Linked DNA regions of Homo sapiens: all the other regions are linked to region 3. Evidence: fine-mapped expression QTL. A gene starts in region 3. Each other region holds a variant in brackets. All regions are shown on one strand. Distances are between the middles of the regions.

Region 1 (5,146 bases), 110 kb after region 3:
GGGCAGATGAGGCAAATCCTGGCTTCTCTGGAATCTGACCCTCTGGTCTGCTGGTTTGTATCTTGTCTAATCCCCATTTCATAGTTAAAAGCTTTTTAACCTCATTATTTCCTTTCAGTCTTATCAACCTGGCAGCATGGGAGTTATTCTCGCATTTCATAGAAGCGGAAATTGAGGCCCATGAGGGCGAAGGTGCTTTCCCGAGGTCACAGAGCTGGCAAGGGAGCAGCAGGATTGACTCCGCAGCCCCTGCGTTTCCATCGCAGTGCCCGCCACATAGTAGGAACTCTACACATGGCGCCTTCTGGGGGCCGCCTGGCTTTCTGGAAAGGATCCGAAGTGGTTTGGTGAGCACCGGCTTTGGAATTCAAACCCTGGCTGATGCCTCTTGCCGGCTGAGTGGCCTTGTACAAGTCACCTGACCTCTTTGACTTCTTTCTTAGCCAATAAAATGGAGATCACACATCTTCAGGGCAGAAATTACAAACACATTAATTTCCCATCCATAGATCCTTCCCACGAATCACCAAAGAGGAGGCCTGCCTTGCCTGCGGTTTCTCCCACCTCCTCTGCCTCCCCTATGCCCAACTGTTGCTGTTTCCTAATGGAAAATGGGGGGAAATGAATGTGAGAGAACATTCCCCAGAGGAGAGGAGGGCGGAGCTGAGCAGGGCTGGAGAAGAGCAGGCAGTGTGTGGGGGGATGTGGGAGGCACAGGCTCCGTAGGGTGTCAGCGGGTGTCACTTACATCTGCTCTTCGGACCCCTTCAGGATCACAAAAACAAAAGCAGATAACTTGAGTTATTTAAAACTTTCGTTTTGGTGGCTGAGTGGATTGAGGTTCTTTGACTGGCACTACGGCCCTGAGACACCACCACTTGGGTTTTGTGCTTATAGGAGTTACTCTTTTTTACAGGGTAGTGGTAAAACTAGGAGAGTATCCGTGCTAAGTGGTTATCAGGGTGCTTGACTCAAGTAGACTCTCAGCAAACGGCAGCAGGCATGATGGTATTCTGTTGTGTTGTTTTCTTGTAACTTGGGGACACTATGCGGAGAGAACCAATGTTTCAGGAGATCTCGGCCTTCACTGGTCTACTCCTTGCCCGTTTCTCCCACTGTTTACCCTTTGTTCATCTATGTCTAACATATGTTGTGCTCCTATTAAGTCAGGCACTGTCCCTTCTCTGGAAGAGACAGTGGAACCCTTCTCTGCCCTTGGGGAGCCTGTCTGCTGAGGACGATGTTCAAATACCATCTGTGGAGGGCTTCTGAGTTGGGAAGGGATGAGACTTGTTTTGTGGTGCCCCCCAGGAGTGGCAGTACCGAGCCTTGTGAGTAGAAGTTGGAGGGGCCACCCAAGCTTAGTGTGAGGGAGGTTTTGCTGTTAGAGCTGTCACAGGTGAGATGTGCTGGCTGGGGAAGTGATGAGTTCTCCATCAGGAGGTGTGCACGGGAAGGCCAGACCACTCTTGCTGATTGCAGATGGAATTCCCAATTTGGGTGGAAGCGTGGACCAGGTGGCGTTGAAGGTCTCTTTGAGTCCTGAGATTGTGCGATTCTTAGAGACACTAAAACCAAGTATGGATCACCTCCAGGGTAATCCAGCTGGCATCTATTCCTCCTTCGGCCTAGAGTATTGTTGTCATTGCCCAGAAGAGGACATGGATTCTGGGAGGAAGGACAGAGCCCTGACTCAGGGTTCATGCTCAGCCTGGTTCTCCCACCCTTCTCCTACAGACACACAGATGCCCTCCTCCTCTCTAAGCTCACCAGCGTCTCCCTTTGCCTTTCCCACCCTTTACCTGTATAGGAATCCAATATGTAGGGTAAGAGGAGGTGACATGGTATGGTGGGTGACATGGTATGGCAGGCGGTGCGGGGGAGGATGCCCTGGGCCTGATCTATCAAGGGAGAATTTCTATGGGGAGCCAAGTTCCCCTTCATCTCCTGCATAAATTAAGATGATGCTAATTGTTGTAAAATAAACTCCAAAGTATCGGTGCTTACTGCAAGTTTATTTCTTGCTCACATAAAGTCCAGCTGGCATTGAAGGGGATAGAGGGGCCTCTGCGCTACATCGATGTATAAGCCAGGGTGATAGAGGATCTGCCATCTTCAA[T/A]AAGTGGCTTCCAAGTTCACCTTGGGCATTGACTTACAGTTGGAGAGAGCAGAGGGTGGCCAGGGAAGTTTTTATGAGCTGGACCTGAAAGTAGCGTGTATCACTTATGCCACATTCCGCTGGTCAAAGCTCAGTCTCATCGCCTTCTCTGAGAATCGGGGGCCTGGAACTGTAGTCACGGGATGCGTAGCGACTTCCCCGCAACAACTGTGCACTGTGGAGGATCATGAGGCTTTGGCAGACAGCAAACCCTCCCTGCTGTTCCCTGACCCAGGCTTCCCTCCTTCCGCCTCCGCCAGTTTGCGCACACTCCGGGGAGTGAGCCTTTGAGCGCAGGAAGAGACCCACAGGGCCTTTGCATCTCCAGTGCCCAGCTCAGTGCCAGATCATTGGAAGTGCTTCTGGGTATTTGGTGAATGAACAAATACTTGGGTATCATTTCGCTTGTTAAAAATACAGATGCCACAAGGTCAGGAGTTCAAGATCAGCCTGGCCAACATGGTGAAACCCTGTCTCTACCAAAGATACAAAAATTAGCTGGGTGTGGTGGCGCATGCCTGTAATCCCAGCTACTCAGGAGGCTGAGGCAGGATAATTGCTTGAACCCGGGAGGTGGAGGTTGCAGTGAGCCGAGATGGTGCCACTGCACTCCAGCCTGGGCTACAGATTGAGACTCCGTCTCAAAAACAAACAAACAAACAAACAAAAAATACAGATGCCTGGGGGAAAACAGTTTGTTCGTTCCTCAAAAAGTAAGACATAGAATGAGCATGTGATTCAGCAGTTCCAGTCCTGGCTATATTCCCAAAAGAATTGAAAAGAGGGGCTCAAACAGATCCTTGTACACCTGTGTTCATAGCAGCATTATTCACAATAGCTGAGAGGCAGAAGCAACCCACGTGTCCACCAGGAGAGGAAATGAATGGAGAAGCAACATGTCGTAAATAATGGAATATCCTCAAACAGGAGTGGAATTCTGACACATGCTGCAACATGGATGCAGCTTGAAGACATGATGCTAAGTGAAATAAGCCAGAACCAAAAGGACACATATTGTATGATTCCACTTATACAAGGTACCCAGAATAGGCAGGTTCATACAGACAGAAAGTAGAATGGTGGTTGCCAGGTGCTGAGAGAGAGGAAGATGGGGAGTTATTGATTAATGGGTACAAAGTTTCTTTCTGGAATGATGAGAAAGTTCTGGAAATGGATAGTGATTTACAACAAGGTGAATATACTTAATGCTGCTGAATTGTACATTTTAAAATGGTTAAAATGGCGAATTTTATGTATCTTTTACCACCATAAAAATAGAAATGTTGGTCAGGTGCAGTGGCTCATGCCTGTAATCCCAGCACTTTGGGAGGCCGAGGTGGGCGATTGCTTAAGCTCAGGAGTTCAATACCAGCCTAGGCAACATGATGAAACCCCCTCTCTACTAAAAATACAAAAACTAGCCAGGTGTGGTGGCAAGTGCCTATAGTCCCAGTTACTCGAGAGGCTGAGGAAGGAGGATCACCTGAGTCGGGGAGATTGAGGCTGCAGTGAGCCGTGATAGCATCACTGCACTCCAGCCTGGGCTACAGGGCAAGTCCCTGTCTCAAAAAAAAAAAAAAAAAAAAGCCTAGGCCGCATACCAGCAAATTCCTATTCTGTTAGGATTGGTGAGAGCTGGGCTTCTGTATTGTTTAACGAGCTCCTCAGGTGAATCTGATGTGCATCTACGTTTGAGACCCACTAGTCTAGCTCTGGTTGTTGGTAGAATGGGGGAACAAGGGGTAATCTCTCTGAAGGTCTTCTAGAGGAGGGTTTCTCAAACGTTGATGTGCATATGGGTCCCCTGGGGATTTTGCTGAAGTGCAGAGTCTGATTCAGTGGTTCTGGCGTGAGGCCTGGTATTTTTTTTGCATTTGCAACAAGCTCCTAGGTGACGGTGGTGCTGGTGCCACTGGCCTGTGACCCACATGTAGAGTATCAAGGCTCTCAAGGGCAGATGGTCATCTTATCCATGGTAGACAAAGTGGAGTTTTGGAAAGGAGCAAGTGAATGTGTAAGATGACTGTTCCAGATACATAGAGTTCAATGAGGATGAGCTGGGGATGAATGAGGAGCAGGAGTGCCACTGATTTGTGAATTAGCTTCTGGGTGTGGATCAAACAGGCAGGCTTGTGGTTTAGCTAACAAACATATTAAGGGCCTGGCGCAGTGGCTCACACCTGTAATCCCAGCACTTTGGGAGGCTGAGGCGGGAGGATTGCTTGAGTCCAGGAGTTCGAGACCAGCCTGGGCAACATGGTGAAACCCTGTCTCTACGGAAAAAAAAAAGTACAAAAATTAGCCGAGCATGGTGGCATGTGCCTGTAGTCCCAGCTACTCAAGGGGCTGAGGCAGGAAGATCACTTGAGCCAGAAAGGTCGAGGCTGCAGTGAGCCGTGATCACACCATTGCACTCCAGCCTGGGTGACAGAGTGAGATGCTGTCTCAAACAACCCTGCAAAGCGTACTGAAGTTAGAGATTATTAGCAAATAAAATCGTGTGGATTTTGCTCAAGTATGCCTGAATTTCTAGACTTTGTGCTTTATAATAAGGGGCCTAGCCCAGTGGAATACAAGCTAGACTGGCCCACATCTTACTTTTCTGTTGCCTTTCCAAATCCTTCTCATCCTACAGAGTCCACCTCAGGTCCCAGACCTCCAACAGCTCCCCAGAGCTGAATTCCACCTTTTCTACCACCGCCCCTCACCAGGGTAAAGTACTTTGGAGCCCTTGATCCATCCTGTGCTGCATATTGGGTCACCTGCCTCAACTGTTTTTCTGCCCATGCGTCCAGCTTGCTCCCTGGACCTGGCGGACTCTTCCCCTGGCAACATCCTGGGGGAAGAACTGAAACTCTAATCTTTGAACAGTGGAACAGCAGGTAGTATGGCTCAGTAGTTAAGGAATTGGACGCTCATGAGTTTAAATCTCATTCCCATCTCTTCTAGCTCCTCTAACCTTCTCACCTGTCACGTGGTAATCGTGAT
Region 2 (5,146 bases), 23 kb before region 3:
CTGCCTTGTAGGCATCTATGCCCTTCCCTTTACCATCCCTGAGCTCTAACGGGTTTTCTGAGACCCCTTTACTGCTGGACACTACTCATCTGTTTTGTCTTCCAAGTTCTGGCAAGCCATACCTGCTCACTGTCTCCCAGTGTGTACTTTTAAGAGAGATCCCCCTGACTCAGGCTGGGACATACCTGCGGAAGGATGGTGATGCGGAAGGACTGGTTGGTAACCTCACCCATTAGGTAGAGTGAGATGACTGGGAAAATGTTCCAAGGGGTGGTGCCTGCTTGCCAGCACACCAGCTGCTCTCCTAGCCAGAAACCATCAGGGAACTTCTCCGTCTGTGTTGGCAAGAAGGGGATAACAATGAGGAAAAGCCTCTTTATCATCTCGCCCCTCCCATGTTCAGATACATTAACTGGGCCCTTCATTTGCTTTTCCAGTGAAATATCTAAAGTGGGGAGGGGTAAACCAACCAGAGGATTACAGGAAGAGAGAGGGAGTGTGATGTCAAACTTTTGTACCGGGGGATTGTGTGATGAGCAAAGTGACAGCCATAAAGGGGAAGAGTTTTTTTTTTTTTTTTGAAACAGTGTCTCACTCTGTTGCCCAGGCTGGAGTGCAGTGGCGCAATCATGGCTCACCGCAACCTCCACCGTCCTGAGTTAAAGTGATTCTCCTGTCTCAGCCCCCTGAGTAGCTAGGATTACAGGCGTGCGCCACCACACCCAGCTAATTTTTGTACTTTTAGTAGAGATGGGATTTCACCCTGTTGGTCAGGCTGGTCTTGAACTCCTGACCTAGTGATCTGCCCACCTTGGCCTCCCAAAGTGCTGGGATTACAGGCGTGAGCCACCACGCCTGGCTAGGGGAAGAGTGTTTTAAGAGCTCTGAGTAGAAGGGTCTAAGTGCAGACATCTTGGCTGTTGCTGAAGAATGTGACTCTCACCGCCTCCCTCTGACACTGTACCATCTCTTTTACCCCCATCCTTAGTCCACTCACGGAGGAGGCTGCCTTGATGGATTTGACTGCAGCTTCAAACACTTTCTTGGGCAAACGAAGGTTGGTGGTGCCACTGTCCACAATGCTCTTGTCATAGTTGTACTAAGAGGGAAAAGAGAGAGTTAAAAGAGTCAAAAGGTTTTTGATGCTGGGCTCTGGGCAGTAGGGGGTTACTGCTGGGGCCCCAGCTGGGTTGGCATCTTGGCTTTGGCACCTCCTAAGTGTACCTGCTTGGACAAGTTAACCTCTGTGCCTCAGTTCCTTCATCTCTAAAGTGAGGATAAAAATAGCACCTACCTCAAAGGGTTATTGTAAGGATTAAATAAATCAGCAATGTAAAGCACTTAGAATCGTGCCCAGCAGAGAGAAGGCACTTGGTAAATGTTTATTCTTGTTAATCTTGGGTGGGCAGGTAGTCTCCAAACTTGAAAATAAAAATACCTTGTTTAGTGCTTTTAACTTTTCTTTTCTTTTTTTTTTTTTTTTTTTTTTTTTTGAGATGGAGTATTAGCTCTGTCACCCAGGCTGGAGTACAGTGGCGTGATCTCGGCTCACTCTAACCTCTGCCTCCTGGATTCAAACCATTCTTTTGCCTCAGCCTCCCAAGTAGCTGGGACTACAGGTGCCTGCCACCACGCCTGGCTATTTTTAGTAGAGATGGGGTTTCACCATGTTGACCAGGCTGGTCTCGAATTTCTGACCTCAAATGATCTGCCCCCGCCTTGGCCTCCCAGAGTGCTGGGATTACAGCCACGCCCGGCCGCTTTTAACTTTTCTTAGTACATTTATATCTATTCTAATTTAACATACATAAGAATCTAGGGAAGGAAGACATAAATGATTTAGTTACCTTTTATTGAGTACTGCCAACCACAGAGATAAACACTTTACACATTATCTCTGATATTCTGAGAAAGTTGTTTTTACCTGTTTTGCAGATAAGGAAACTGAGACACAGAATAGTAACTGGCCTAAGGGTACATAGCTAGTACAAATCAGAGCTAGATTCAGATCTGGGTCTTCCTGACTCCAAAGACAAGACTCTTCATTCTATCACCCTGTCTCACAAAAGACTTGCCCAAGGCTACGAAGCAAGGCAGTGACTAGAGTCCAGACATCAGAACTAGTTCCATGTTTTTTTTTTCACTACCAGTCCCTAGGCCCCAAACCGCAGATCCTGCTGTGTGACCATTAAGCCCCTGACTGTTCTAGGCTCAACTTCCAACCCTTTCTGCAGGTCCTATTACCTCTGCCTCATCCTCCCAACATGATAACCAGAGTCTTCCTTCACATTGTACTGCCTACCCCCTTATGTTCCCAGGCTCTCCCTTGGTTTTCTTACCTCCTTGCAGTCCATTTTCAGATCCTGTCCATTGATCTCCACCCGCACAATGAT[C/G]ACCTCATAATACCACTCCCGCCGGATGGGTGTATACCAGAGACTGCCTGTGTACAGCGAGTGGTCGATACCTCCAATGATCTAGGGAAAAAAAGAGGCAGGTACCCGTGTCCTGGCACAGAAGGAGAGTGAGTCCCCCAAGGACCAAGCAATAAGATCAGTGATTTCTTGGGGTGGCAAGGTCTTCTACAGGCTACCCTTTTCATCTTCCTGCTTCTAAACAAATCATACCCAAAGTGATTTCTAGTTTCTTAAATGTGTTCAGGAGAAAAGACTTTCCGGGATTTTTAATTATTTGTTTCAGAATCATACAGCCCTTGATATAAAGTTATTTAAATCTAAACTGCCACAATAAATGTTGAATGAATGGTTATTTGTTTATATTATAAGTTTTATTTTCTCTGCTTATTGGAGAACCATTCACCATTGTTCTAATTAATTAATAAATAGACAAACTTCTTATATCTCTGCCTTCTGACCATCAAACTGAATAATTTTAATTCAACAGGTCTTATTTTCATTTCCTTTGAAATTTTCCTAATTGCCTTCCTTTCCAAGTTTACCATAGGTGCCTTGATTCCTTTCTGGAATAACGCAAAAAAGAAAAGAATGGAAAAATAAAGTAAGGGTAGGGAATATAAAGAGGTTCCTCCTGATTCTAAGTATCGGAGCCAAAACTGTGGTGTAGCTTTCAGGAAGGGGAGAGGATGGCACCCATCTCTCCCTCAATGCCAGGACCTCCCCTCTCTGAGGACCTACTCACCATGCTCCCTCCGACAGAGGCCAGCACTTCAGACTGGTTGAGGGGGAAGCCAGCACCACAAAGCTGCAGGGAGAAGAGGTTGGGAACGTGGGTCTGCTTTACCAGAGAGTCAAAGAAAGGCTCCAGGGAGTCGTCAGGCTTTGGCAGAAAGAGACAAGGAGTGAGTCCTCATACGGCCCTAAAGGCAGAGGCCAGCTTCCTGTCTAAACTGGAAGGCAAATTTGAAGGCTTGGGGGATGCTCCTTGGGAAAGACCATCTTAAGGCACTGAGATTTGGCAGAGGAAGGGTTAGCAGGAGCCCTGGCAATGCAAACAGGACAGTATTGATAGGTTCACAGATTCATAGATCTTTTTTTTTTTTTTGAGACAGAGTTTTGCTCTTGTTGCCCAAGCTGGAGTGCAATGTTACGATCTCGGCTCACTGCAACCTTCACCTCCTGGGTTCAAGTGATTCTCGTGCCTCAGCCTCCTGAGTAGCTGGGATTATAGGCATGCGCCAACATGCCCGGCTAATTTCTGTGTTTTCAGTAGAGATGGGGTAGATGGGGTTTCACCATGTTGGTCAGGCTGGTCTTGAACTTCTGACCTCAGGTCATCCGCTCGCCTTGGCCTCCCAAAGTGCTGGGATTACAGGTGTGAGCCACCACGCCTGGCCAGGTTCATATATCTTTGATCCCCCTATGCCTAACCTGCTTCAAATTTATGGGGGCCTTTATTAAAGATCTTAGAGTGGCTGGTCGCGGTGGTTCATGCCTGTAATCCCAGCACTTAGGAAGGCCGAGGTGAGCGGATCACCTGCGGTCAGGAGTTCGAGACCAGCCTGGCTAACATGATGAAACCCCATTTCTACTAAAAATAGAAAAAATTAGCCGGGCGTCATGGTGGGCGCCTATAATCCCAGCTACTCGGGAGGCTGAGGCAGGAAAATCGCTTGAACCGAGGAGGTGGAGGTTGCAGTGAGCCAAGATTGCACCATTGCACTCCAGCTTGGGCAACAAGAGTGAAACTCCGTCTCAAAAAAAAAAAGATCTTAAGAGTACATAGAAAGCACAGCCTATTCTTGTACCTATCACAGCTTCTGTCACTATGGTTCTGCCCTCTATAGGGCTAAAATTTAGACTGCCACCCTATACCCCTGTTAAATAATCCTTTAAACTGATTGTTGCCCTCCTTCTGCTAATTCCCCTTCTCTCTCCTAATTCCTTCTCTGTATAGTGCAGTGTGCATAGAGTGTGTAGGGCCAAGCCCTGTTCCTCTCACCCTGGCAATCTCAGCATAGGCCAGCCCCAGGATGCCTTCCCAGTTGGAGCCGTTGATGAAGAACTTGTCTGATTCAGTGATGGCAGCAATGTTGGCACGCACAGTGACGTTGGGGCCATGGGGGATGCTTACCAGGTCGGTGCCCAGCTCCCCTTCCCACTTGCCCTGGGTGTAGGGCACATACACACCCTTCCGGAGGTCCCGGTATGTGCTGGACCTGTGGAAAGAAGGCAGAGATCTGTGGATGCATAACCACAACTGGTATAAGGATCTAAGTTAAACTTACTCCCAAACACCACCTTATCTCATCTCAGGGGAATCCTAGAGTCTGCTTTCAGGCTGCTCAGCAAAACATCCCTAGACTCACCACCCAGAACAGAGTGTAAAGTGGGCTTGCAGATAGATGAAGGGAACCATTGGTGAGGCTTGCTCTCCTATCTATTGCTCATATTCCTAGATCTTGAGCTCAGGCCCTGTGAAGAACAAGCCTGGGCTTTGTGCATTGTGCCTGCTGCTGCTGCTGCTGCAGGGACAGCTAGTGGGCATCTCTTCCGCCCTCTGGCTCCGTCAAGCTCCCCGAGAAAAGGAACCATTGACTCTCTTACTGCCTTGGAACCTAGTGGTACCATCCGAGTGGTAGAGAAAGTGCCAGGCAGGGTGAATGTGGAACCTCTACAGCAAGTTCTAGAGAAGGGGTTTGTTCAAGCATCTCAGAAAAGCAGGTTGGTAT
Region 3 (5,146 bases):
ATAGAATTGAAGAGGCAGAACAGGCCAGACAAGGATAAAGTGACTTCATATTTGTTGGAGGTCAGTTTTATATGCTGGTGTATTGTTCTGGGTGAAAGCACCTAGAACAATTAACCCTCACAACTTAATCCTCACAATTACCTTGCAAAGGAGGTCTCATTTCCTACTCATTTTAAAGATATGACAGTAGTTTCAGAGAGGTTATGCAATTTGCCCAAGGCCACACAGCTGAGAAGAGGAAAAGCTGTGGGTGGTAGAGCTGGGATTCGTGGACTGTCTGACCTCAAAGCTTGTGTGGGTTCTGCAGCCCCGTCCTGCATCGTGCCATGGGGTCCATGCACAGTGTGCACAGCATGTCAGTCGCAGAAACAGGAGTAGGTCCCAGGTCTCTGCATACCTGCTGCTCCCTGACGATATCATCTAGCGTTCTGTTTGCTCAGGGCCTGGATTTGGCTTCTGTCCTGCCCTCCCAAATTCCCACTGGAGACTACTGCTGGGGAAGTTATGGTGCACAGGAAAGAGGATGAGAAAGTGGGGAAGACCAGGCTTTCGACTAGCTGAGAGGTAGGGCTGGGGAGCACGCACCTAGGAAGGCTGGCTTCTGTAAAGTAATTGGGAGGTGGGGGTTTGTGTTTCTCCCAGATCCAGCTGTCTGAGAAGTTCAGGAAAGTGTGGCTGTCCCCTCCGCCCACCCCAAACACACTCCCACCTTCACAGACCCTCCCAAGGACAGACTTCCCAGACACAGATCCGGAGGTGGCTCACAGATGTGCAGGATCAGATTCAAGGTGACACGCACCAGCATACACAGAACCACAGGGCTGCCCGGGCCCGGACTGCCCCACAGAGGCGGCAGATGCACACAGAGGTCAGCCACAGCACCCCACATGGAGGGCTGCTCACCCACAGAGGTGCAGAGGGTGCCACCTCCACCAGCCACCTTGAAGGTACCTTGGAGATTGTCAGGAAGGATGGGGAGGGCATAACAGTGTTTTCTCTGTAACTCCCCTCTCCCCCGCCATGGAAGGAGTCCCACTCTTAAAAGGGAGCTCTGGCTCCTTTCCTACCATTTGTTCTTTCACCAGGCTCAGTTCAGTTCCCCTCTGGCCTGGGGAGGTGTGGGGTGGGGGAGGGGCCGGAGTGTAGACCGCGAGAGGGAGAAGGGGAGGAGGAGGGGACGGCAGGAGCCTGTCCAGGGCTTCCGGGCGGAGTGCAGTCAGGGGGGCCTCGACAACCTCACTTTGCCGTACCAGTGGCAGCCCAGATGGTGGGAGCAAGGTGCTTATTCAACTGCTGCCAGGATTCCTTGGTCCTGGAGGTACTGGGAACAATGGTGGGAATCAGAGGAGGGGACAAGGTTGGGTGGCCAACCTCTAGAGTGGTGGGATTTGGGAGACTCGGACTGGGCCACTGTCAGAGGGGGCTGACACCTGTTATAGTGCCCCTGTGGCGGACCCTTCCTCCAGGTCAGGGTCCCCAGCTGATGTGTCTGTCTTGCCTCAAATCCTTCCAGACGGCGTATGTGTCAGATGAGGAGCAAGGGGAACTAGGCAGCCAGGGGAGACGAGGAGGGAATGGGGAGCTTGGGAACACTTCTGCCAACAACCACGTGACCCCCGGGGAATGGCTGGGGAGGGGTCCCTCCTGCTGTCCCCACCAGCCCATTTGAGCAGGGGCTAGCTTGAGGCATCCCCATCCTGTCTCCCCTCTGCTCATGCAGGCGGAGGGCTAAGGGCTGGCCTGACCACCTTACCGTCTGCGGGGGGCTGCCCACGGTCATCTCCACGTAGTAGCCCTGCCCCGACTTGCCCCTCAGGTTGTCCACCATCTCCACAAAGCTGCCCCTCCGGCCGGGCTCCTCGGGCTCTTCGTCGGTCTCCCGGGGCAGCCGCAGCCCCAGGGGGGCGCCCCCCAGGCCGCTGCGCAGGGGCAGCCGGATGCCGTGCTGGGTGCCGTGGGCAGGCAGCACTCCCGCGCCCATCCACAGCAGGAGCCAGGGCAGGGCTTGGGCCATGGTGGGCCCCGGCCTTCGGGCCCTCTGGGCTCGCACTGGCCCACGTCCGTCCCTGGCGCCTGCCCCCAAGTCTGGGTGGTGCTGGTGGCTTCTCAGGAGAGGGAGCTTGGGGGCATCAGGACGCCAGGGCCTGCAGGGCCCTGGGCCAGCCCCCGGGTCCGGGCTGTGGAGAGCGGTCAGGGGAGATCCGCAGAGCACGGGAGCAGGGGAGAGGCTGGGATCCGGAGCCCGCTACATCGGCACGGCGGCGGCCAGCCTGGGCAGCGGGCGCGGGCTCCCGGCGGGGCTGGGAGGGGCGGGCATGGCGGGCCGGTGGCGGCTTCCCTGGTCCCCCCGGCGGGCGGCGGCGCGGGCAGGGGCAAGGGCTCCGGGCTCCTGCGGCTGCGTTGGCTGCTCAGGCCACCATAATCCAGCTCGCGGCTCGCAGCTCCCGGGCGGGCTGGGGAGGCGGAAAGACTTGTGGCGGCGGCTGTCAAAGCCAAAAGGTTTTCGCTTTTCCCTGGGATCGCTGGGAAGTGTAGTCTTCCCATGGCAGGCAATCCGGCTTCCGGGGCTGGAGAGGGGTCTGGGATGCCCTCTGCCGAGGTGGAGTCCGCCCTGCAAGGCCCTGGCGGGAAGGGCCAGACGGATGGAGAGGGGCACACCTCCCGTCTGTCAGTCTTTCTTTCAGCATGGAAGGAGCACCCACTGTATGCCAGGCACACTGCCAGGCGCTGGAGATACAGAGAGAAATAAACGGTGATTCTACACGGGACAGTTAAGTGATTCCTGCCGCGGTGGGGTTTCACACTATACGATGTGGCATTAAGGAGTAGGGATTTGGAGGGACATCTAGGGGATCTGGGAAGACTCAGTGGGAGAAGGTGGTATTTAATTTGAGCGTTTAAAAATGGGTAGGATTTTCACGAGCAGAGATTGAGGGAGCAGGATGAAAGGGGAGGAAGAGTTTTTCCAGGCTGCAAACCAGCGGAGCAGGGTCCAAAAGGGGAAAGTGCAGTTGTCTTATTTTCTCCTGCGCCTGCGATCTGCGGGCAGGTAAGAGCCAGTGGGTCTTCTCCCATCTGAACCTGTTTGTGCCCTTGAGGCTCTACTTGAATCCTTATGGCTCCTCTGATTTTCTGCACCATCAGCCAGACTGAGGAGAAATGGCTGTTGATAGCTTTAAAGTGTTAACACTCCGAAAAGTATCTCTATATTAACTGGTAAGAGCTTAAAGCCTTGAACCAAAAGCGTTAGAGTTCTAATAGCTTAAAGGAGAAAAGCCGGTATGGTTTTAACAATATATTGTTTATCAAATGTGGAAAGCCATTGATAAAATTCAGCAGTTACTCTGATTTAATTTTTTTAAAAAATGAAAGGGAATCTTCATTTTTCTTTTGAAAAGGAGACTTGCTCTGTCACCCAGGCTGGAGTGCAGTGGCATGGTCTCAAGTCTGCAACCTCCGCCTCCCGGGTTCAAGCAGTTCTCATGCCTCAGCCTCTGAGTAGCTGGGATTACAAGCATGCGCCACCATACCCAGCTAATTTTTGTATTTTTAGTAGAGATGGGATTTCACCATGTTGGCCAGGCTGGTCTCGAACTCCTGGCCTCAAGTGATCCGCCCACGTCGGCCTCCCAAAATGCTGGGATTATAGGCATGGACCACTGTACCCAGCCAGGAAACTTTTTAAACAAGATAACGACAACAACAACAAATGTAGTAATAACAGGCTACGTTACTCCCATTAAAGGCAGGCTTTGGAAAGGAAAGATCATTATCTCTACTCTTTTTTTTTTTTTTTTTGAGAAGGCGTCTCGCTTTGTCGCCCAGGCTGGAGTGCAGTGGTGGGATCTCAGCTCACTGCAAGCTCTGCCTCCCGGGTTCAGGCTATTCTCCTGCCTCAGCCTCCCGAATAGCTGGGACTACAGGCGCCTGCAACCACGCCCCGCTAATTTTTTGTATTTTTAGTAGAGACGGGGTTTCACCGTGTTAGCCAAGATGGTCTCGATCTCCTGACCTCGTGATCCTCCCGCCTCGGCCTCCCAAAGTGCTGGGATTACAGGCGTGAGCCACCGCGCCCGGCCGATCATTATCTCTACTCTTATCCTACACGGTTCAGACCGGTCTGATTGACTCAAAAGACAAGAAAATGGAAAAAGTGTTATATATGTTGGAAAGCAAAGGAATCATTAGTTGCAGATTATATGATATGGATAGAAAACCCTAATCAATAAGATGATTAGACACAAGTTAAAAAAATCGAAATCAAAATAGAGAAATGTATCTATGGGAATTGTAGATATGATAGAGATGGCATTCGTATTAGAGGAAAATGGACGCATTATTCAAAAACTGTTGTTGGGACGTCTGGCAGCCCATTTGGAAGGAAAAAAAACCAAATCCAATTTCATTCCTCTGAAAATAAACTCCAGATAGATTAAAGAATTTAACATTAAAATAAAACTACAGGAAAAATAGAATATTTTCATGATCTTATATTGAAGAAGACCTCCCTAACAAACCCTAGAAGGTAAACAAACCCAAAAACTGGATGGATTTGATGACTTAAATATTTAAAACTTCTGTAGAATCAGAAGTATTCCAATACCACCAGTGTTCTAATTCTGGTTCAATTAGTAACTGGGAGAGCCCACTCTGGTTACTTACTTTTTGAGTCCTTTTTTTTTTTTTTGAAACAGTCTCACTTTATCACCCAGGCTGGAGTGCAGTGGCTTCATCTCAGCTCACTGCAACCTCCTCCTCCTGGGTTCAAGCGATTCTTGTGCCTCAGCCTCCTGAGTAGCTGGGATTACAAGCGCACACCACCATGCCTGGCTAATTTTTTTTTTTTTTGAGACGGAGTCTCCCTCTGTCACCCAGGCTGGAATGCAGTGGCATGATCTCAGCTCACTGAAACCTCTGCCTCCTCAAGCGATTCTCCTGCCTCAGCCTCCCAAGTAGCTGGGACTACGGGCACGCGCCAGCACGCCCAGCTAATTTTTGTATTTTTAGTGGAGACGGGAATTCACCATGTTAGCCAGGCTGGTCTCTAACTCCTTACCTCAAGTTATCTGCCTGCCTCAGCCTCCCAAAGTGATGAGATTACAGGCGTGAGCCAACTTGCCTGGCCCCTTTTTGAGACTTGATTTTA
Region 4 (5,146 bases), 81 kb after region 3:
CTTTCTATGCTTATGTGTTTCCCTTTCTGGGCAGGAAAGGAAGCTCCAGGATTTAGAGTTGGACCTTGAAACCAGAGCTAAAGATGTCAAGGCCAGATTGGCTCTGCTGGAGGTCCAGGTGAGGGATCTGCAGGAGTCCTTGACCTCAGAGTCATAGCTTCTCTAGCAGAGGGCAGGCTCTGCCCCTCAGACCTGGGGTCTGCAGTCAGCCAGAAAATCCTGTCTCTTCCCTGCAAGGAGGAGACCGCCCGGAGGGAGAAGCAGCAGCTGCTTGATGTGCAGAGGCAGGTTGCTCTGAAGAGTGAGGTTTGTCTCCCTGTTTTGTCCTCCCTCCTGTTCTTCCTCCATTTCCTGTCTTTCTTCTCCCTGTTCCCCACATTTTGTTCATCTGATCTGTCCAGGGCACTGGGGTTCCAAACTCTGTTGGCCAGTATTCCACAAATAGTGCCACTCTGTGGACCCCACTTGGGAACCTCAAGGGAGTGGGACTGTGGTAGGACAGGAGCCTGCAGACCTCTTGACCTCAGAGGTGGTGACTTCAGTGGCTCTGAATTCATTCCCAGCCTGTCCTCCTTTGGCTTCCCTACCCTCTCGTGCTGTCTGCTCCCTGGCTTCTCTCTGTGCTGTCTCTGGGTGCTTCTATCTTTCCTTTTGCCCCTAGGAAGCCACAGCCACCCATCAGCAGCTGGAGGAGGCACAGAAGGAGCACACCCACCTGTTGCAGTCAAACCAGCAGCTCCGAGAAATTCTTGATGAGCTGCAGGCCCGCAAGCTGAAGCTGGAGTCCCAAGTGGATCTGCTGCAGGCTCAGAGCCAGCAACTGCAGAAACACTTCAGGTGGCGTGGGCACCCTGCACTTAGCCCTGCTGGCTGCCTCCTGCCTGCCCTCTGACCTCTGCTGCTTGTGTCATGGCCCAGTTAATAGGGAGAGGTGGAGTCCCAGCTTGGGAGCTAGGCAGAAGAGCCTGTGGCTACATTTTGTAGGGAGTTGGGGTTGTTAAGATTCTGTGAAAAGCAGGGGATCTCTGGTGCTATTGTTCGTGCCTGAGCCCTTCCTCAGGGACTTTGACGGATGGGAGTGAGGGGGTGGAGATGGTTCTGACCCACTTCACCCCTCCCCCCCATCGCCAGCCGCTGCCCTGCCTCTCACTCATCTTTCCTTCCACAGCAGCCTGGAGGCTGAAGCTCAAAAGAAGCAGCACCTGTTGAGAGAAGTGACAGTTGAGGAAAATAATGCTTCCCCACATTTTGAGCCAGATCTCCATATTGAGGACCTGAGGAAATCCCTTGGAACAGTGAGCTGGGGGCTGGGGCCTGGGGGCTGGGGCACCAGGATGGTGTGGGGCATTGGGAGGGGCTGGGCATCAGGGGAGTACTTCCAGAGGGGACAGCTCATCAGGAGGGGTGGAGCCTCAGGAGGGGAGGAGTATAAGGTGGGCCAAGGCATCAGGAAGGGCTGGCTCTGTTCTCTATGGGACCTGGTCTGTTCTTATTCCCAGCTACCAGTCGTCTCCACCAGTCAGATGATATCTATAAGTAAACAGTGCCTGGCAGCTAGAGAGCCATTTCCTTGTCTAGACCACTGGGAGGGGCTTTGGGGTCTTGAACCTGCAGGGTGTCTGCTTTTGCTACACTCAGTGGACTTTTCTACCATGTGTCCCTAGAACCAGACCAAAGAGGTGTCTTCTTCTCTCTCCCAGAGCAAGGAGGACTTATACTTGGACAGGTGAGTTCCCATAGCCTGTCTTATTTGAGGTTAGGGTACCATGAAGGGGTAAGTGAGTACCTGCATCATAGAGCTGGGGTGAGCTGAAGTGAGGAGACGGTGATCACCAGTGGGGCTTAGTTCATGGGGAAGGCTCCGGAGGATTAAGGAATCTTCTCTGGCAAGCCAAGAAACTGCCCACTGTGACCTTTGACATGGCATTCTCCTCTAGTGGAGAAGCAGATTGCTGGAAGTGTTTGGTCATCTATCTGGAGGCCCCAGGCCTGATCCCTCTCAGAGTCAGGGTGGGGGCACTGTCAGTCCCAGGCACTGCGCACTGTGGGTATTGAACAGTGGCATCCCTGCACTCACAGTGCCCAGCCCTAGCCCAGCAGCTCTGGTCTGTGCTCAGGGTTGGCATCTGCTGGGGAAGGGGCTGTGTGACCCAGAGCAGAGTTCTTAGAGGCTTCTGTTTTCCTTCTTCAACTCTCCTGCTCCAGCCTGTCCTCCCACAATGTCTGGCACCTCCTCTCTGCTGAGGGGGTAGCCCTCCGTAGTGCCAAGGAGTTCCTTGTGCAGCAGACACGCTCCATGCGGAGGCGGCAGACAGCTCTGAAAGCTGCCCAGCAGCATTGGCGCCATGAGCTGGCCAGTGCGCAGGAGGTGGCCAAAGACCCACCAGGCATCAAGGCCCTGGAAGATATGCGCAAGAACCTGGAGAAGGTCAGGAGCTTTGGGAAGGGCCTGCCAGCCCTGTGTGGGGGAGGCGGGGGGAGTCAGCAAAACAGTCCTTTGGGCTCCCCCTCAGTTGGTCATTCTCGGGACTCCATGAGAGTGGCCACCTTGGCCCTGGGTCACTTATATTTACTTGGCAATGCATAGTATGCAAACACCTTTTCTAGTAGTAAATAATTTAAACCTCATGATAACACTATTAGTCCATTTTCATGCTGCTGATAAAGACATACCTGAAACTGGGAAGAAAAAGAAAATTGAACTTACAGTTCCACATGGCTGGGGAGGCCTCAGAATCATGGCAGGAGGCGAAAGGCACTTCTTACATGGTGGCAGCAAGAGAAAATGAGGAACAAGCAAAAGCAGAAACCCATCATAAACCCATCAGGATCTCGGGAGACTTATTCACTATCACGAGAACAGTATGGGGGAAATGGCCCCTGTGATTCAAATTATCTCCCACCAGGTCCCTCCCACAACACGTGGAAATTATGGGAGTACAATTCAAGATGAGATTTTGGTGGGGACACAGAGCCAAACCATATCATTCCACCCCTTGCCCCTCCATATCTCATGTCCTCACATTTCAAAACCAATCATGCCTTCCCAACAGTCCTCAAAGTCTTAACTCATTTCAGCAT[T/C]AACCCAAAAGTCCACAGTCCAGAGTCTCATCTGAGACAAGGCAAGTCCCTTCTGCCTATGAGCCTGTAAAATAAAAAACAAGCTACTGACTTTCTAGATACAGTGGGGATACAGGCATTGGGTAAATACAGCCATTCCAAATGGGAGAAATTGGCCAAAACAAAGGGGTTACAGGGCCCATGCAAGTCTGAAATCCAGTGGGGCAGTCAAATTTTAAAGCTCCAAAATGATCTCCTTTGACTCCATGTCTCACATCCAGGTTACGCTGATGCAAGAGGTAGGTTCTCATTGTCTTGGGCAGCTCCGCCCCTGTGGCTTTGCAGGGTACAGCAATGCAGCCAGAAGGCAAACCCTTCCCAGCTGCCTTCCGAGGCTGGCATTGAGTATCTGCGGCTTTTTGAGGTGCATAGTGCAAGCTATTGACGGATCTACCATTCTGGGGGTCTGGAGGACGGTGGCCCTCTTCTCACAGCTCTATTAGGCAGTGCCCCAGTAGGGACTTTGTGTGGGGGCTCTGACCCCACATGTCCCTTCTGAACTGCCCTAGCAGAAGTTCTCCATGAGGGCCCCACCCCTGTAGCAGACTTTTTTCTGGGCATCTAGGTGTTTCCATACATCTTCTGAAATCTAGGCGGAGGTTCCCAGACCTTAGTTCTTGACTTCTGTGCAGCCGCAGGCTCAACACCACATGGAAGTTGCCAAGGTATGGGGCTTGCATCCTCTGAAACCATGGGCCAAGCTGTACCTTGCCCCCTTTTAGCAATGGCTGGAGTGGCTGGGATGCAGGGCACCAAGTCCCTAGGCTGCACACAGCATGGGGACCCTGGGCCTGGCCCACGAAACCATTTTTTCCTCCTAGGCCTCTGGGTCTGTGATGGGAGGGGCTGCCCATGAAGACCTATGACATGTCCTGGAGATATTTTCCCCATTGTCTTGGAGATTCTGCTCCTTGTTACATATGAAAATTTTTGCAGCTAGCTTGAATTTCTCCTCAAAAAATGGGTTTTTCTTTTCTTTCTTTTTATTTTTTAATTATACTTTAAGTTCTGGGATACATGTGCAGACCATGCAGGTTTGTTACATAGGTATATACGTGTCATGGTGGTTTGCTGCACCCAACAACCGGTCATCTGCATTAGGTATTTCTCCTAATGCTATCCCTCCCCTAGCCCCCAACCCTGACAGGCCCCGGTGTGTGATGTTTCCTTCCCTGTTTCCATGTGTTCTCATTGTTCAACTCCCACTTATGAGTGAGAACATGCAGTGTTTGATTTTCTGTTCCTGTGTTAGTTTGCTGAGAATGATAGTTTCCAGCTTCATCCATGTCCCTACAAAGGACATGAACTCATCCTTTTTTATGGCTGCATAGTATTCCATGGTGTATATGTGCCACATTTTCTTTATCCAGTCTATCATTGATGGGCATTTGGGTTGGTTCCAAGTCTTTGCTATTGTGAACAGTGCTGCAATAAACATATGTGTGCATGTGTCTTTATAATAGAATGGTTTATAATCCTTTGGGTATATACCCAGTAATGGAATTGCTGGGTCAAATGGTATTTCTGGTTCTAGATCCTTGAGGCATCACCACACTGTCTTCCACAGTGGTTGAACTAATTTATGCTTACACCAACAGTGCAAAAGCATTCCTATTTCTCCACATCCTCTCCCAGCACCTGTTGTTTCCTGACTATTTAATGATTGCCATTCTAACCAATGTGAGATGGTATCTCATTGTGGTTTTGATTTGCAGTTCTCTAATGACCAGTGATGATGAGCTTTTTTTTTATGTGTTTGTTGGCTGCGTAAATGTCTTCTTTTGAGAAGTGTCTGTTCATATCCTTTGCCCACTTTTTGATGAGGTTGTTTGTTTTTTTCTTGTAAATTTGTTTAAGTTCTTTGTAGATTCTGGATATTAGCCCTTTGTCAGATGGGTAGATTGCAAAAATTTTCTCCCATTCTGTAGGTTGCCTGTTCACTCTGATGGTAGTTTCTTTTGCTGTGCAGAAGCTCTTTAGTTTAATTAGATCTCATTTGTCAATTTTGGCTTTTGTTGCCATTGCT

Which allele goes with the higher level. Positions count from the first base shown, and alleles are read on the strand shown. Sizes are in standard deviations (SD) of each study's normalised expression. Not every link is listed here.
In carriers of allele C in region 2, the expression in testis of the gene that starts at base 2,475 in region 3 tends to be lower than with G alone (small effect, 0.40 SD a copy in GTEx).

The links.
Region 1: its variant is fine-mapped to the expression of BACE1 in whole blood (TOPMed, PIP above 0.99).
Region 2: its variant is fine-mapped to the expression of BACE1 in testis (GTEx, PIP above 0.99).
Region 4: its variant is fine-mapped to the expression of BACE1 in whole blood (GTEx, PIP above 0.99).

Annotation. Positions count from the first base shown.
Region 1 is chr11:117,420,954-117,426,099 of GRCh38, forward strand. No RefSeq gene overlaps it. Among named protein-coding and RNA genes, the nearest start is that of CEP164, 96 kb to the left of the region's middle. The variant T/A (reference allele first, on the strand shown) is at 2,120.
Region 2 is chr11:117,290,715-117,295,860 of GRCh38, forward strand. BACE1 (beta-secretase 1) reads right to left here. Exons shown (of 9, transcript NM_012104.6): 3 at 4,417-4,633; 4 at 3,157-3,294; 5 at 2,340-2,474; 6 at 998-1,099; 7 at 186-335. It also overlaps BACE1-AS. Among named protein-coding and RNA genes, the nearest start is that of BACE1, 23 kb to the right of the region's middle. The variant C/G (reference allele first, on the strand shown) is at 2,394.
Region 3 is chr11:117,313,782-117,318,927 of GRCh38, forward strand. It overlaps BACE1 (beta-secretase 1), which reads right to left and starts at 2,475. Exons shown (of 9, transcript NM_012104.6): 1 at 1,754-2,475. The coding sequence starts at 2,014. RefSeq lists enhancers at 341-863, 864-1,385 and silencers at 1,914-2,023, 2,114-2,203.
Region 4 is chr11:117,394,886-117,400,031 of GRCh38, forward strand. CEP164 (centrosomal protein 164) reads left to right here. Exons shown (of 33, transcript NM_014956.5): 22 at 35-118; 23 at 238-306; 24 at 662-837; 25 at 1,169-1,295; 26 at 1,665-1,726; 27 at 2,206-2,428. Among named protein-coding and RNA genes, the nearest start is that of CEP164, 70 kb to the left of the region's middle. The variant T/C (reference allele first, on the strand shown) is at 3,082.